Linked DNA regions of Homo sapiens. The protein of the gene in region 1 purifies or fractionates together with the protein of each later gene. This does not show direct contact. Each region holds a gene or a part of one and is shown in the gene's direction. Other genes may lie near its edges.

Region 1 (4,527 bases):
TGTAGTAAAATGTTACGATGTATAATATTAAGCATAGGGCATAAAATTGTTTTTATTCATCTCAGTTATGTATTAAATGAACCAACTTGATTTTAATTGGCATTGTGGAAATATGGAGGCAAGAGTATCAGAGGTCAGTGAGAATATATTTGGTGCCTAATACAGTGATGGTAAGGGGGAAAAAGTATGGACATAATCATTTTAAAGGGAGATTTTGGTTTTAGTTTTTCCAATAATTAATGAAAAATAACATTGGGTTTCTTCGGGAAAAAATTTACACAACTCATTTCTCCCACTGACTCAAAAGTGTAAAAAAAGAATCTTTAATTAACATGGAGTTTTTCCTCTTTTTGTTTTAGGATCAGATTTTATTAAGACCTCTACTGGAAAAGAAACAGTAAATGCCACCTTCCCGGTAGCTATAGTAATGCTGCGGGCCATTAGAGATTTCTTCTGGAAAACTGGAAACAAGGTATATTATTGCCAGCAAATCTTTCTTCAGAGTAAAGATAATGTTATTTATAATACTAGTTACAGCCACAATAACTGTCTTTATATGGAGAAGTTGTGAATGAATTACCTTTATTAAGATAAATGTTTAATTTACCTTTCATTATAAAAGAACACACTGATGGAGAAAAATTGTGATGAACAGAAAGTGAGTTGTGAGTGTGGGAGTGAGTATGTGTGATCAAGATGTAAACTCACTTTATGTCCTTTTGTTAACCGAAGACAATTTTGTCACTGACAAGAGATTCCTAAATGGGTTCTTTAACGAACTAATTCTGCTGCAACACAGAGGCTTTCTCACAAGGTGTTGGCCAGTGAAAACAGGTTAATGCAGAAATTAAACTTCCTTGAGGAATGGAAAGAATTGCAGAGTAACATTTATTGAATGATAAGCTGTGGTGGTGATATGAAAGGTATGCAATATAATGGGAAACAATCTTTTCCTGTCATTATTGAAGGACACACATAAATTGGTTTTTCTGTTGGGAAACCCCCGGTCCAGAAAAACTTATTACTTTTAATAATATGAGGTGAAGAGAAAATTCTCGAGGAGATGAACTTATTAAACAAAATAATGAAATGCTGTGAAACAGCAGGGAAAAGGTAGCTAGACGTTATATAGCTCTTGAATTAAATATCAATTTTTGCGTTTTATGGAAGTTGGATGTGCTCTTTGGAAGACTGTTAAGCTGAGGAGGGTGTATACTAGTTTTTGTCAGCTTTTCGAAAAATGATACATATTTTTTGAAACATATGAAGTTAAAAGGAAAAATGCGTATGAGTTGCTTTTTTAAAAATGAGTTTGGATTTTCCTTTTCATCTCAAGTTACTTGTTTAGCTGCAAATTATCTCAAAGGATTTTTTTTTTTACATGATTGGAGAGCAAGGTTGTGTGTGTGTGTGTGTGTGTGTGTGTGTGTGTGTGTGTGTGTTTAATGACACTTTCCCTTCCTGAGAGGCATCTTTTAAATCCAGTCTCTTGATTTGTGCCAAATAGAAACCCAAAAAAGACCTTTAATCCTTTGTCCATTGGATGTGATGACTTTATATGTAAGTGTAGCTTCAGTTTATTTTGGAATAGTGACCTTTTTTTTAATATACTGTTTTATGAGAGGAAATAAACTCCTTCCAGAATTTTCTCACTTAAAATAACTTCACATCTTAATTACGAATAGGATAAATATCTATTGTGAACTACATGAGAAAGCTGACCCAACTCGAATAACCTCTACCTGGTATCCTTTCTGCAACAATCCAAATAAGTTAAAAGAGTTTTTGTTTAGATAAGCTGTAAAAATGATAAATCTATCTTTGGTCCTCAGTTGAAACTACCACCACTCATTTGATTGTGATTCTCATTCTTAGCCAAAGAATATCAAAACCAAATGTGAAGCTTTTCATACTTACAGATGCCTGGGCCCCCATCCCTGGTGGTTTTGGGTCTGGCATAGTCTTCAGGCATCTGTTTGCATTAAGTTCCATTGCCAGGGTTCAGACCTGCCATTGGGGACCCAGTCCTGTTTTGTTCTCAACAAACATTTATTGGGTAGTTAACCATGTGCCATGTTAACCTGTGTTAAATGCTAGGAATGGAAAAATGAGTATGTTCCTTCTCAGGAGAGCTCTTAGACAACAAGCAAAGAATGTCAATGAAATTTTTAAGTGCTCAGTGTTCCAGGCCAGAGTACAGAGGGAGGGACACTTTGCTGTCTTTCAGTCCTTTCTTTTTAATTGTATTGATTCTTTTCCTCGGTAATAAATAAGTCCATCCTAGTTTTATTAAGAAAAAGACAGGTACAAGCCAAATTGTATTCATTTAATCATATTCGATTTCAAACAAATAGGTTCTGTGTATGTGTTTGCAAATCAGGTGCAGCCTTTCGGGTTGCTTGACAAGTTGCTTGGGCAGCCCTTAGACTATAAAGTTTCTACGTCATTGATTTAAGGGTGTTTTAAAATGCGATAGGCTAGCTTCCAGACCATGATTAGTGTCACTCCTGAGAAGCAGAGGTTTAATATTTCATAACTGATTTCATTGCAGATTTATGTCTTCCATATTCTCTTTAAAAAAAAAAAAGATAAACTTATGTTAGAACCTCTCTGGAAACAGACTTGCTGACACAAACTGAACTGTATAGGAAATCTGTAAGAAGCACTGCCTAATTGACAAAAATGGTCCTATGATTAACATGTATGCTAATATCAACTAATTGATTTTTTTGGCTTATTCTCAACAAATAACCTCATCCTACTTAACCCCCTACTACCTTACAGCTTGGGCTCCAGAGTAATAGCAGATATGGTTGGAATCCGTGCACTGCTACTGCTTAGTTGTGTGACGTTGTGTAATTGAGGCAGGGAAACCAGTTAAAAGACTTTTACTGATATTTCCTGTGAGAATTGATAAGGGTCTAAACTGAAACAAGTGAGAGTGCAGTGGAAAGAGTGCATGTGAGGGGGTAAGGAAGGTAAGGAGGTAGAATTGTCAGGACTTAAATATTGATTGGGTGTGGTGTGGCCAGGGAATGGTGGAGTTTGGATTAAACTATAAGGTTTCCTGCTTGGGTTGATAATAGAATATATTCATTTAATGTCTCCCTTCTCTAGCATTCTGTTAGCAGTCATCTGCTGGTGCAACCAGTCATAGCCCTGAGTGATAAAACGTGAGAGATTTAGTACTCAGGCTCTGAGGTGTTGTTTTGACCACTACCATCTACAGATTCCCAACTCTACTGGATAGTCAGGTTCCTGAAACATGTAAATCCAGATAATCAGAGTTTTATTGTATATGGAACATATCTTTCATTTCCTAATGGATCCAGGGACATCATTTACGAATATCAGATATTGGCTGAATTCAGCTGTGTTATGATCAACCTTAAAGACTACTGGACTATGAGGAGCCCCTCACGGTGTTTTTCTACTGCCCTTATGTAACTGGTCTGCCAGCTTTTTAGAACTGTGTGTGCCTGCAACTTAGAAAAAAAATCCCACAGTTAAATTGGTTAAAACAACTGTCAACTTTCCTTGCTTTTTTGCTGCCAGTTTGGTTAGGGTAACCTTGCAGCCTTGCTGATTCTGTCCTTTGATTTTAAATGCACGTGTCTTTTGAACCTCAAGATGAAGGCTGAGAAGTGACTCTACAGGCTTACTTGTGGAAATGTAGAATGAGTGGGCTTTGCTTTTGTGATCTGTTTTCCTATTTATTGACACCTTCCTTGTTTATTCCAGGTTCACAGCTATAGTCTAGATGGTGGAGGTTTATGACTTTCCAATAAGTGAAATGTTAATGAGGGTTATTAACCCTCACTAGTGTCTGTTTGGAAGTAGTGACATTCTTCCAAAAATCTTGGAAAAGTTGTTTTGTAGTGTGAATGAGCATGAGTCACTGATCTAAGCCCTTTCACTGGATGAAGTGAAAAGATTTTTTTTCAACAAAAGAGGGAGAGAGAGAATCAAGACTCTGATAAACATAGTACTATTTTTAAAAGAAATCCAATAACAATAAAGATTGTTCTATTCTCTGCCTTCCCATTTAGATAGGGTTTAAACCAGCAGGAGGCATCCGCAGTGCAAAGGATTCCCTTGCTTGGCTCTCTCTTGTAAAGGAGGAGCTTGGAGATGAGTGGCTGAAGCCAGAACTCTTTCGAATAGGTGCCAGTACTCTGCTCTCGGACATTGAGAGGCAGGTGAGTAATCATCTCTGTCTTTGGAATAAATTAACAAGTGTTTTTTGAGAAAGGAATTGAAAAGTCAAATTGAGAACTGGAGATAAAAACTCATCTGATTGACCTCATCCTACCCAATCCTCTACCTTTTCTTCCAAGCAAACCGCCATCAGAAGTGAGTAGGGTGGAGATTCTGCTGAAGCACATACTAGTGAGGCTTTCTAATGAAATGTTCATTAAAACTATTTATTATTATTTGATAGTATAATTATTAACTGATGTGTATAATTATAGAATGATTGTTAATTAAACTCTGCTTTTCCTCACAGATTTACCATCATGTGACTGG
Region 2 (3,500 bases), on another chromosome or scaffold:
GGGCAATTTTGGAATCCCACAGAACCCTCTTCCCTGGGCCCTAAGGGAACCGGCATCGGGGTGTGCCCCTGTGTCCCAGGCAGGGGCGGGGCAGGGCTTGGGGGGTCACTGGGCCCCTCTCACCCTCTGTGTGCCCTCAGGGATCGGGCTGGCCCTGGCTGCGGCAGTGAGGGGCTATCGCTGCATCATCGTGATGCCAGAGAAGATGAGCTCCGAGAAGGTGGGTGGGCGTGGCCAGGGGCGGGGTCATAGGGCAGGGGATGAGGGTGCCTGGGCCAGGCGGAAGGTGCAGGCCACCGCTTTCCCTCCTGCAGGTGGACGTGCTGCGGGCACTGGGGGCTGAGATTGTGAGGACGCCCACCAATGCCAGGTTCGACTCCCCGGAGTCACACGTGGGGGTGGCCTGGCGGCTGAAGAACGAAATCCCCAATTCTCACATCCTAGACCAGGTGAGGCACCTGGGGCCTGGAGACAGGCATTCCCTAGGAGGGTCTCGGTCAGGGATGTGGGGGTGACTGAGGTGTCAGGGGTCAGCTCACGGGCTCTGCTCTCTTTCTATGCAGTACCGCAACGCCAGCAACCCCCTGGCTCACTACGACACCACCGCTGATGAGATCCTGCAGCAGTGTGATGGTGCGTCCCTCTGTCCATCTTGATTGCATTTATCCCTGGCTGCCTGGGAGTGTACACATCTCTTGCCCTCTCCTTGGTGAACTCCTATTCACCCTTCAGAACCCAGCTCAAATGTTCCCTCTGTGAAATGCTTTTCTAGAGCATTTCTCTAGAACAATTTCCTCCCTCCGTTGTGCCCTCTTGGCCTCCGCCTGTGGTTTACCTGTAATAGCAAACACAGGGCATGGCTGTATTTGTTTACCCAGCAATCTCTGCAGGTCTGCAGGGGCTCCTCCTGCAGATAATGCAGACAGCGAGTCTGTTCAGGGCCCAGGCTGGTGCTGGGCTCACAGCTTGGACTTCATTTGGGATCATGCCCTGACTCGGCATCAAATTCATCTGCAGAACAGAGCTGGTGACATCTGCGATGAGCTCACTCTCTGTTACAAGCATGAGGCCGGCTCCTTGGGCCCTTTTCCAGGGACTCGGTGCCAAGGCCTGTGGGGGTTGGTACTGAGGTTTTCCCAAGAGATCCCTTTAGAGATAAGTTGCCAAGAGGTTGGCGCCCTGGCTTCCTATTGGGAATCCGGTGTTGGCATGGGCTGGAGTACACCCTCAGTCCGTGCCCAGGAGCCGGGCTGTAAGGTCCAGGCATTTGGTTGTTTGGGCTTTATGTGTGAGAACTCTCTCATTTGGCAAAAACAGTCCTGTCTCAGCATGGGTGCCCAAGCTGCTCCGTCTCGCTGAGTCTTTCCCTGCTGTGACTTCTCCACCAGATGCCCGCGCTGGCGGCCAGCAGTGTGAGCGCCCAGCGAGTTTCTGCGCTGAAGCCTAAAAGACTGATTCCATTTCCTGTGTAAATTCAGTTAACTCACTCACACCACGCAAACATCCAACAGCCCACGGAGGTGGTTAATTCACAGCCTCCCTCTGCCCGCCCTCAGCGCCTGCACCCCCCGGACAGGGTCCTGTCTTTCTGCATCCAGCCAAATGGGGGTTTTAGGGGTCGAGTGTCACTGAGCAAAGACTGGGCTGGGGTGCCCCAGGCTGCCTGTTTCTGAGGCTTTCACAGACCAAGGGCAGCAACGAGGGCTGCTCCAACTGGAGAAGAAGTTTTTCTTTTGAACTTTTTGGTTACCCACCGTGGTTTGGGCTGAGTGTGTTTTCAATGATTATTACTATGAGTGATGGGCTGGCCAGGCAGGGACCCAAGAATGTTATCCGTCCACCAGGGAAGCTGGACATGCTGGTGGCTTCAGTGGGCACGGGCGGCACCATCACGGGCATTGCCAGGAAGCTGAAGGAGAAGTGTCCTGGATGCAGGGTGAGTGGTGTGGCCGGGCCGGAGAGGGGCAGTGCGGAGTGGCCCCGGCTTCTGAGCTGAAAGCTGTCATTCCTCACGGTCTGCTCAGCACGCTGTCTCCCGCGGTATTTCTGCGCTGCCTGGGAGGTGTTTGGGAAGACAAGGGTGCTTGACACATAAGGGACCAGCAGCTCGTGACCCGAAGGAGCTGGGGCTGGGTGCTCGCTCACCGGCCAGTGTCTTGGAGAACCTTCCTGCGCTGAGTGGGGGGTCGGAGTTCCAACTGGGGGCCTCTGAGGATCAGCCAGGAGCTCTAAGTCCTCTGGTCCTGAGTCTGCCCCTCAACTGGGGCTTGTGGGAGTTGGGAGAGGGTTCCTGGACTCGGGGTTAAGAGCAGGTCTGAGGACGGGTGCCTAGAAAGGTCCCGCTGATGAGACAAGGGCGTTCTCTCCCTGTTGCTTGCCCTTGAAAAAGACGTCACTGCCCAGCAATGCCCTTTGTCCCCAAAGGCTCTGCTGCTCCGCCGCAGGGTGGTCTGTCTGGACTGTCCTGGGGGCCCCGCTCCGAGAAGCACCCCGGGGAGGTCAGTTCCTCCCAGGCACCTGCCTTTACTTCTGAGCGCCCTGCACTGAACATTTAGGTCATTACCGCTTTAATACTTGGAGCCTGGGTTCTTGGGTTTCTCATCCTGCCTCTGAGGCTGGGAACAGGCCACCACCCACAGGCAGATCATTAACAGGCAGTTGTTAACGGCGGTATTGGCCACTCCCATAATAGAATATCGAGGCATGTCCAGGCGGGGCTTTTGCTGGCCTTGAGCCCTGAAGCCGCGCCCTCTGCAGATCATTGGGGTGGATCCCGAAGGGTCCATCCTCGCAGAGCCGGAGGAGCTGAACCAGACGGAGCAGACAACCTACGAGGTGGAAGGGATCGGCTACGACTTCATCCCCACGGTGCTGGACAGGACGGTAGGTCGAGTCCAGAGCCCGGCCACAGTGCCGGTGCAGCCTGTAACTCACCCTCACACTGGGGAGCCTGGCTGACCCTGGGCCCCAACCAGCTTCTCCACTGAAACAGAAGGGCAAGCCCCGCACGCATGGTGAGAAGCTGGTCTCGAAGGTCGAGACAAAGTAGACTGGGGGACGATGTCCGCACACGTGGCCTGACCTCACCAAGGGATGTAGCCCAGGTGGCACAGGCAGGGAGCAGGGAAAACGTGTGAAAATTAAGGCCCCGGAAAAGTCTGTTAAGAGCCAAAAAGCTGACTTTGGCCTGAGGGAGAGCAGAGACCGAAGGGCCGGTGTGGGTCACACGGATGCTCAGTGGGGCTGGCGGGCAGTTTTGCTGTCTGCAAAACGTGTTGGAACTGGAAAGTCTGCAGACGTGCCGATCCCAGGGGGAGAGGCTGGGGTGAGACCTCTGGGGTCCTACCGCCTAGACACGGGGTCCACCATGAGGCTGTTCACCCTCTTGGTCACGTGGGAGCGGCTCCCACGCTGACGGGCTGTGGTGGGGTCCTGCTCAGGTGGTGGACAAGTGGTTCAAGAGCAACGATGAGGAGGCGTTCACCTTTGCCCGCATGCTG
Region 3 (3,500 bases), on another chromosome or scaffold:
AGAAATTCAGTGTTCCTTCCTAGCTTTCCTTAAGTAAACTATGCAGGTAAATGTTTCCTTTTGCTAGTTGGACACAAGCATTGATTTGGTGGTAGTATTTATCACTATTGCATAATTAGCATAATTCTAACAATCTTTTGCAGTTGTTATGGAATACTGGGCTATAAAATATTTAACTAGCTAATTTTAAAATTTTAATTTAGGGAAGTTGATCACGTTTCTGATAATATGGAGTGCAATCATATTGGCTACTGTGAATACATAAAATGTTAATTTTTGTTATTTTTAGGTTGCTTTCAATATATTTTAGAAGTGACTGTGAAGGTGAATAGCTTATTACACATTATAGTGGTGTGTGCCTATAGTCCCAGCTACTCGGGCGGCTGAGGCAGGAGAATCACTTGAACCCAGGAGGTGGAGGTTGCAGTGAGCCGAGATCACACCACTGCACTCCAGCCTGGCGACAGAGTGAGACTCTGTCTAAAAAATAAATTAATTAATTAAATTAAATAAAAAATAAACATTAACATTATAGCATATTGAAGCCAGTCTAGCCTCATCGATTTAATTTTTATTATTTATAAAAATTATAAGTGTAAACATAAACATTGTCTATTTCTCTTTGAGCTCTTTACAATAACTTCTGAACAATGCCAATACTTATAGTATTAACTTCTATCTAATACAATCTTTGTAATTAAACTCATAATTTTCATCCTGCTTATAAGTTTTTTTTGTTATTTTTAGAAACCCTACAGTGGCACTGCTTATAAGATTTTTGATACCTTACTAGTGACCAGTGTCACTTAGGTGTTCTTTGGAAATGTGTGCTTACCTAAAAAATGTCTATTTCTATAATATTAAAGCAGTATTATAATATATATTTCAAGTCCTATGATGAAAAATTGATTTGATTTGGAGGGATTTAGTGAATATTAGTTAAGCTGGTAGAACATTGTTTAGTTCCAAAAAATGACGGCTTTATTTTATTGTGCTTTTAGCAATAGCAAAAAGAAATATGCTTCTAAGATTGTTACATGGCAGAAAAGAATGTTCAAACTTAATTTACTTAATTTTAAATTACAAAATCTAGGATTCTACTTGTTAGCTAATAGAGTTTCAAGTATTTTATTAATCTTTGTGCAAATGTTGTGTTTAACAGTTTGGAACCAATCTGATTTTTTATTATAAACCAGTGTTTATAATAAACAGCTAGATAGATAGCACCAGTGTTAAACGTAAATCACACAAGTGGAAATTGTAAGGTGTAAGAGTTTTTAAGAGTTATTTATCATCATCTGTAGGAGAAACTGGCTTCAGTCTGGTCAGACAAATCTAATCTTTCCAACAGCTAAGTAATTCACCAGCAGGGAATTTATGAATAATTATTTAGTCAACCACCTGGAAATTAAGTCTGATTAAAGTTTTAAAAATAAGCAAGCAGGCCCAGGCACGGTGGCTCACGCCTGTAATCCCAACACTTTTAGGCTCAGGCAGGCAGATCAGCTGAGGTTGGGAGTTTGCAACCAGCCTGACCAACATGGAGAAACCCCATCTCTACTAAAAATACAAAATTAGCTGGGTGTGGTGGTGCGTGCCTGTAATCCCAGCTACTCGGGAGGCTGAGGCTGGAGAATTTCTTGAACCTGGGAGGCGGAGGTTGTGGTGAGCTCACATCATGTCATTGCACTCCAGCCTGGGCAACAAGAGCGAAACTTGGTCTCAATAAATAAATAAATAAATAAATAAGCAAACAAAAAACAGGGAGAAAACCTAACAGAATTGTAGTGTTATGATTTACATTTAGTAATATGAAACTAACATTTTTCTTCTTCTTTTCCTCTCTCATGTCTCAATATCTTTGCAAAATCTAATCTTCCTTTTTAACCGTTTTCTTCTCTTGATAAATTCTCTTGTTTCTATGTGTTTTGGTATGTTTGATATCTTGCTGCATATTTTTCTATGTCAAATCATGCCTCCTTTTGTCTCTTTCCTTCCTCCTATCTTGCTTTTCTCTTTCTGTTACATTTATTTGTTACATTTGTCACTGTGCTTTTTACAGTACATGTTGGATGCTGCTAGGAATTTGCAACCCAATTTATATGTAGTAGCTGAACTGTTCACAGGAAGTGAAGATCTGGACAATGTCTTTGTTACTAGACTGGGCATTAGTTCCTTAATAAGAGGTAGGCTTGTTGGAGTGTATTTCCCTCTAAAACTTTAGCTTTTGTTTAAGTAGATTAAAGGATTTAATAGCTTCATATGCAATGCTTAATAATTTTTTAACACAGTTAATGTTCTTCTAAATACTTTGTATGACATATTCTAATATAACTCAGTCTATTTTTATCAGTATAAATTTCTACTTTGGGGTAAGATACCTCATTTCAAATTGAAAGACCAGTAGGATGAACTGAAGACTCACTAACAAAACCATTTTTTGTTGTTGAAAATATGCAAACCTGTTTTTCATCTTCTACTGGGAGATATGATGTAATGTTTAGATGTTTTATAATCAATTTTGTATAGCTTACATCCCAGTAAACAACATATGTTCCCTTTTCCTTACATGAGCCATTTCTCCAGTTAAGTTATGGGGAAAACTTTTTTGTCACTTAAACTAGTAGACATTTGTTTAAATCCTTAAAGCAGTTTTATTTTTTATAATATTGATGTGGTCTTTATTTTGAAAATCATTTATGAGAAGAAATCTAACCTCTTCCTGGACATAAATAATGAAGATTGTTAAAATATTCTGTAATGCTCTGCAGAGGCAATGAGTGCATATAATAGTCATGAAGAGGGCAGATTAGTTTACCGATATGGAGGAGAACCTGTTGGATCCTTTGTTCAGCCCTGTTTGAGGCCTTTAATGCCAGCTATTGCACATGCCCTGTTTATGGATATTACGCATGATAATGAGTGTCCTATTGTGGTAAGCACCTAATCTTTTTCATGTACTTATTTTGCTAAATGCTTTGATATTTAACTCTCTGACACTTGGTCACAATCATACCCATATACTTCAAAATAGTGTCTTAGATTTATAACTGATTTATAATACATAGTTTTCAGAATGTTTTACTTGTTTAAAAGCAAATTAATTTACCTTATGAATTTATTTATGTAATTATCCTTTTACTTCATTATGCTATAGAATAGCACTTTGCATTTGAAAGAAAGCAAACTTTTGCTTTGTTGTTGTTGTCTTCTAGCATAGATCAGCGTATGATGCTCTTCCAAGTACTACAATTGTTTCTATGGCATGTTGTGCTAGTGGAAGTACAAGAGGCTATGATGAATTAGTGCCTCATCAGGTTTGTTTATATGTTGTTTCTTAAAACCTACATGGCCAACAACTTTGGGCATTTTTATTAAAAAAAATTCATTGTAATTAAGATGTATCCATGCTAAATTTTACCTTTGTCCAGATTTCAGTGGTTTCTGAAGAACGGTTTTACACTAAGTGGAATCCTGAAGCATTGCCTTCAAACACAGGT
Region 4 (3,500 bases), on another chromosome or scaffold:
ACTTTAAATTCTGGAAGCCCAGAAAAAACGTGCAGTCAGGGTAAGCCTTATGTTTGGTGCCAGACACAGTAGAGCATTTACAGATGAAAACACAGAACAAGCTACTTCTTATTCCTTTCAAAGCGGTGTGTTTTCTTATCTTTAAAACAAATAACGTTAATTGGGCTTTTAGGATCATGGGTAGTAAAACAATGCATATTTATTCTAGGAGATTTGGAAAATAGAGTGAAATATGAAACTCACCCATAGCAGTGAGGCATTCCTTCCTCCAGCTATTCTGTTCCTCTTACACACACGTGTTTTGTTTTGTTTATGGAATTGTGATCTGTGCGTGCATTGTTTTATGACCTGTTTCCCTGCATTCTTAAGTCAGATGTAGTAGATGTAGTAGACAGCTTCCATGAACTTTTCTTTCCAACCTTTGCTTTCAGTGGCTTTATAGCATTGTGGCTGTGGAAATAACTGATTTATTACTATCCTGTTCTTTGAAATGTTGATTTTCAATTTTTCCATACAAATACTATCACAGTAAACATCCTTGTACATATAGCCTTGTATGTATGTAATCCTTGGGATTAATTCCCAGCAGTCAAAGGCCATGGATATTTAAAAACTTTGGATAGTGTCAAACTGTCCTCTATCACTTATGCCAAGTTAGACTCTTTTATTTTTTTGAATCCTAATGAGAATGGACATTTTTTCTCATGTTTATCATTTATTTGTATTTCTTCCTGAATTGCCTCTTTATAAGAAAATTGTAAACACTAGTGATTTTGACTTTACGTCTTGCAGATATGTTTTCTCATGTGGTTGTTTTGCTCTTCGTTATTGTTTGGGGGTATTTCTGGATAGCAGCACCTTTTCTGTTCTAGTGTCTTCATACAGTTTGGAGCAAGAGTCGAATGGCGAGATTGAGCACGTGACCAAGCGGGCCATCAGCACCCCCGAGAGTGAGTAACTGATCGGAACACGTGGGCTTCTCCTCAGTCTCTCCTGCATTCGTGATGTGTTTGCTAGAGTCGCAGTAAAACTCCTTCCGGTGCAGGATAGTTCTGATGGTCAGAACCATGAGTGCATTGCTGAGGTGGAGTATTTCACAGTGACCACGGTCGCTTGATCCATGAGCACTGACCGAGTATGTTGTTCCAGTGTCGTTACATTCAGTCAGTCAAACACCACAGTGGCCCGCGGAGCAGACAATGCCGTTGAGGCACAGGTAGGTTGGGTGACTGACCCAGTGGTGCCTTCTGGAGGCGGCCCTCCGTGTCTCTGGGCTGTCCGGGTGCACTGGGCGCTGCTGGGTGGGCCTGCTCCCAGGGCGGGCAGACGTCAGCACCAGCAGGTACCATGCACGCTCTGCAACTGCCAAGACCAGAGACCCGGGGACCCCTGCTCGGAGCCTGTGTCTCATTCCCCTCCATGTTTTTTCCTACTGTTTGTGCTTTTCCTTTGATTTCAAAACAGAGGTGAGTTAGGAGAGTTGAGTATTCTTTTCCTATTATCTTGTGTGATAGCTTCATATTGTGTCAAACCTCATAAAAACCATTATTTTGAGAAAACTCTTACAGGAAGAAGAAATGCTTCCTGTCCTAAATCTGTGGAGTAGTGGCTAGGCCCTGCCGCCGTGTCCCTGTGTGCCCCTCGCTCTGCGCCCGGCTGTGCACAGTGCCCTCAGCAAGCTGCATCCAGCCCCGCTCGTCCCTGGCCATTCCACTCCTCACTGTTTCCACAGACCACAGTGCCTGGAACCTGGGAGGTGTCAGAGATCTCCTCCCGGAGACTTCTGGGAGGGCAGAGCTGGGCGCTGAGCCCAGGCCTTCTGGTCCCAACTCTTGTGCCCCTTCTCCAGCCTGTCTCCTAGTCCTGACTGCAGGGGAAGATGAGAGCGTGCTAAGGTGCTCTTCCTGGTAACAGAGCAGCAAGGTGTCCTGCCGTTCGTTTAGTCACTGCTTCAGTCAGCTCATGTGTGTGGAGCACCTGCTGTATTCTAGCTACTTGCTTGTTTGGTTCTGTCACACTGATGCTGTGATCTCTTAGAATAGTTAACAGGTTAGAGGTAATTTTCATCCAGGTCCCCCTTTGAAGGGAGTTTATCCCACCCCCACCCTCAGACGACAACCGAATCATGACGGCATTTGTCATTAAAGGCAGTGGGTAATTTGGGATCCTGCGTCGTGGACAGGTGCGATGTTCTGTGTGTTAGAGCTTGCTGTGTGTTCGATGTTCCTGGCTCAGGAGTGCCAAGAGCTTCTATTTTGGCAGTGAGGTGCCATATGCTGAAGAAACGGGGAGAACGCATCTCATTTTCGTTGTGCTCATCCTGAGTCCCTGATGTCAGTGTTGGGTTGTTTCCTAGCAGCTCGTGTTTCTCCACAGGGCAGCCTGGCGTGGAGGGTTCATGCCGCCCTCATCTGCCTGTGTGGAGCCACGCTTTGTGCTGGAAATCAGGCGCCCGGTGTCATTGAGTTGGTAGAGTACTTGTTCTTGCTCCAGGCTCTTGGACATAATATTCCTGCTGATGCAGTCTCTGTCCGTCTCTCTTTATACTGAACCAGGAAGAAATGCCTGGAGGTCTCCCCTTCCTGGGAGAACTGTTAGATAGTTTAAAAGCACTCAGTTCTGTTTTCTCTGTGGTTTATACGTCCAGATTCTTTTTGGCAACTTTTAGTTTAGGTGGGGGAGACTGTCAGGAAGTGTCTCAGCTCTTCAAAGCTGGCAGGAAAGATGCCACCCAGTTCAGCACCAATTCACAGTGGCTTTGCTAAATGGAAATGAAAATTAGTCAATTTTCAGAGCGAGGATTTTAACTGAAAATCTGTGGGGGTTTTAGCAAGTCCCTGTTACTGTTACCATTCGGGTGGCACAGACGCTGCTGCCTTCGATTCTACGCACAGTGCATGGGGGACGTCAGAGCCCCCGCACCCGGGCTTCTGTAAAGATGGGAGACTAATTTCCTGGAGTGCATATGGGCTTCCAAACAGGAAGAGCAGTGTGTGTGTCAGGAAGGGAATTTCATGTGACAGCACAAGGAGAGACTTCACCGAAACAGAATAAGCAGATCTAGCAGTGATGAGGAATTCTCTACCATCGTCTATTAGTGACACTCAAGTAGCCATCGGGTACACAGCTGCAGTGCGCTGATGAGCTTTGAACTGTAAATGGGAAGACACAGTCCATACTCAAGACACCAAGTGGAGAACGGGGAGCGCTCTGAAGCTGCCTCCTCGCATGTGCTTGCAGAAGGGCAGCAGGTTCAGTGGTACCAGCAAGCAGCTGCCCAGCCCGTGCTGTTCCCGGGAGTGTGCTGGTGGCAGCTTATGCACTGGGTACAGCACCACCCAGGAGGGGCGAGGCTGCACCACCCAGGAGGGGCGAGGCTGCACCACCCAGGAGGGGCGAGGCTGCACCACCCAGGAGGGGTGAGGCTGCACCACCCGGGCCTCCAAGACAGGGTGGCATGTGTAGGCAGATGGGGCGGTGGGGGGGGGGGTGCAGAGAAG

The links. Proteins that work in one complex are often made in the same cells at the same time.
Region 2: the proteins of DERA (region 1) and CBS fractionate together in Homo sapiens (co-fractionation; one large-scale study listed by BioGRID). This does not show direct contact.
Region 3: the proteins of DERA (region 1) and AGL fractionate together in Homo sapiens (co-fractionation; one large-scale study listed by BioGRID). This does not show direct contact.
Region 4: the proteins of DERA (region 1) and NCAPD3 purify together in Homo sapiens (co-immunoprecipitation; one large-scale study listed by IntAct). This does not show direct contact.

What each region holds. Positions count from the first base shown.
Region 1 is NC_000012.12:16,032,183-16,036,709, forward strand, and holds part of DERA (deoxyribose-phosphate aldolase), read left to right. Parts: intron 1-359; coding exon 360-472; intron 473-4,049; coding exon 4,050-4,199; intron 4,200-4,507; coding exon 4,508-4,527. UniProt on the Homo sapiens protein: Catalyzes a reversible aldol reaction between acetaldehyde and D-glyceraldehyde 3-phosphate to generate 2-deoxy-D-ribose 5-phosphate. Participates in stress granule (SG) assembly.
Region 2 is NC_000021.9:43,062,336-43,065,835, reverse strand, and holds part of CBS (cystathionine beta-synthase), read left to right. Parts: intron 1-140; coding exon 141-220; intron 221-314; coding exon 315-449; intron 450-563; coding exon 564-633; intron 634-1,844; coding exon 1,845-1,936; intron 1,937-2,757; coding exon 2,758-2,883; intron 2,884-3,440; coding exon 3,441-3,500. UniProt on the Homo sapiens protein: Hydro-lyase catalyzing the first step of the transsulfuration pathway, where the hydroxyl group of L-serine is displaced by L-homocysteine in a beta-replacement reaction to form L-cystathionine, the precursor of L-cysteine.
Region 3 is NC_000001.11:99,877,861-99,881,360, forward strand, and holds part of AGL (glycogen debranching enzyme), read left to right. Parts: intron 1-2,062; coding exon 2,063-2,186; intron 2,187-2,771; coding exon 2,772-2,935; intron 2,936-3,215; coding exon 3,216-3,317; intron 3,318-3,431; coding exon 3,432-3,500. UniProt on the Homo sapiens protein: Multifunctional enzyme acting as 1,4-alpha-D-glucan:1,4-alpha-D-glucan 4-alpha-D-glycosyltransferase and amylo-1,6-glucosidase in glycogen degradation.
Region 4 is NC_000011.10:134,154,468-134,157,967, reverse strand, and holds part of NCAPD3 (condensin-2 complex subunit D3), read left to right. Parts: coding exon 1-40; intron 41-872; coding exon 873-950; intron 951-3,500.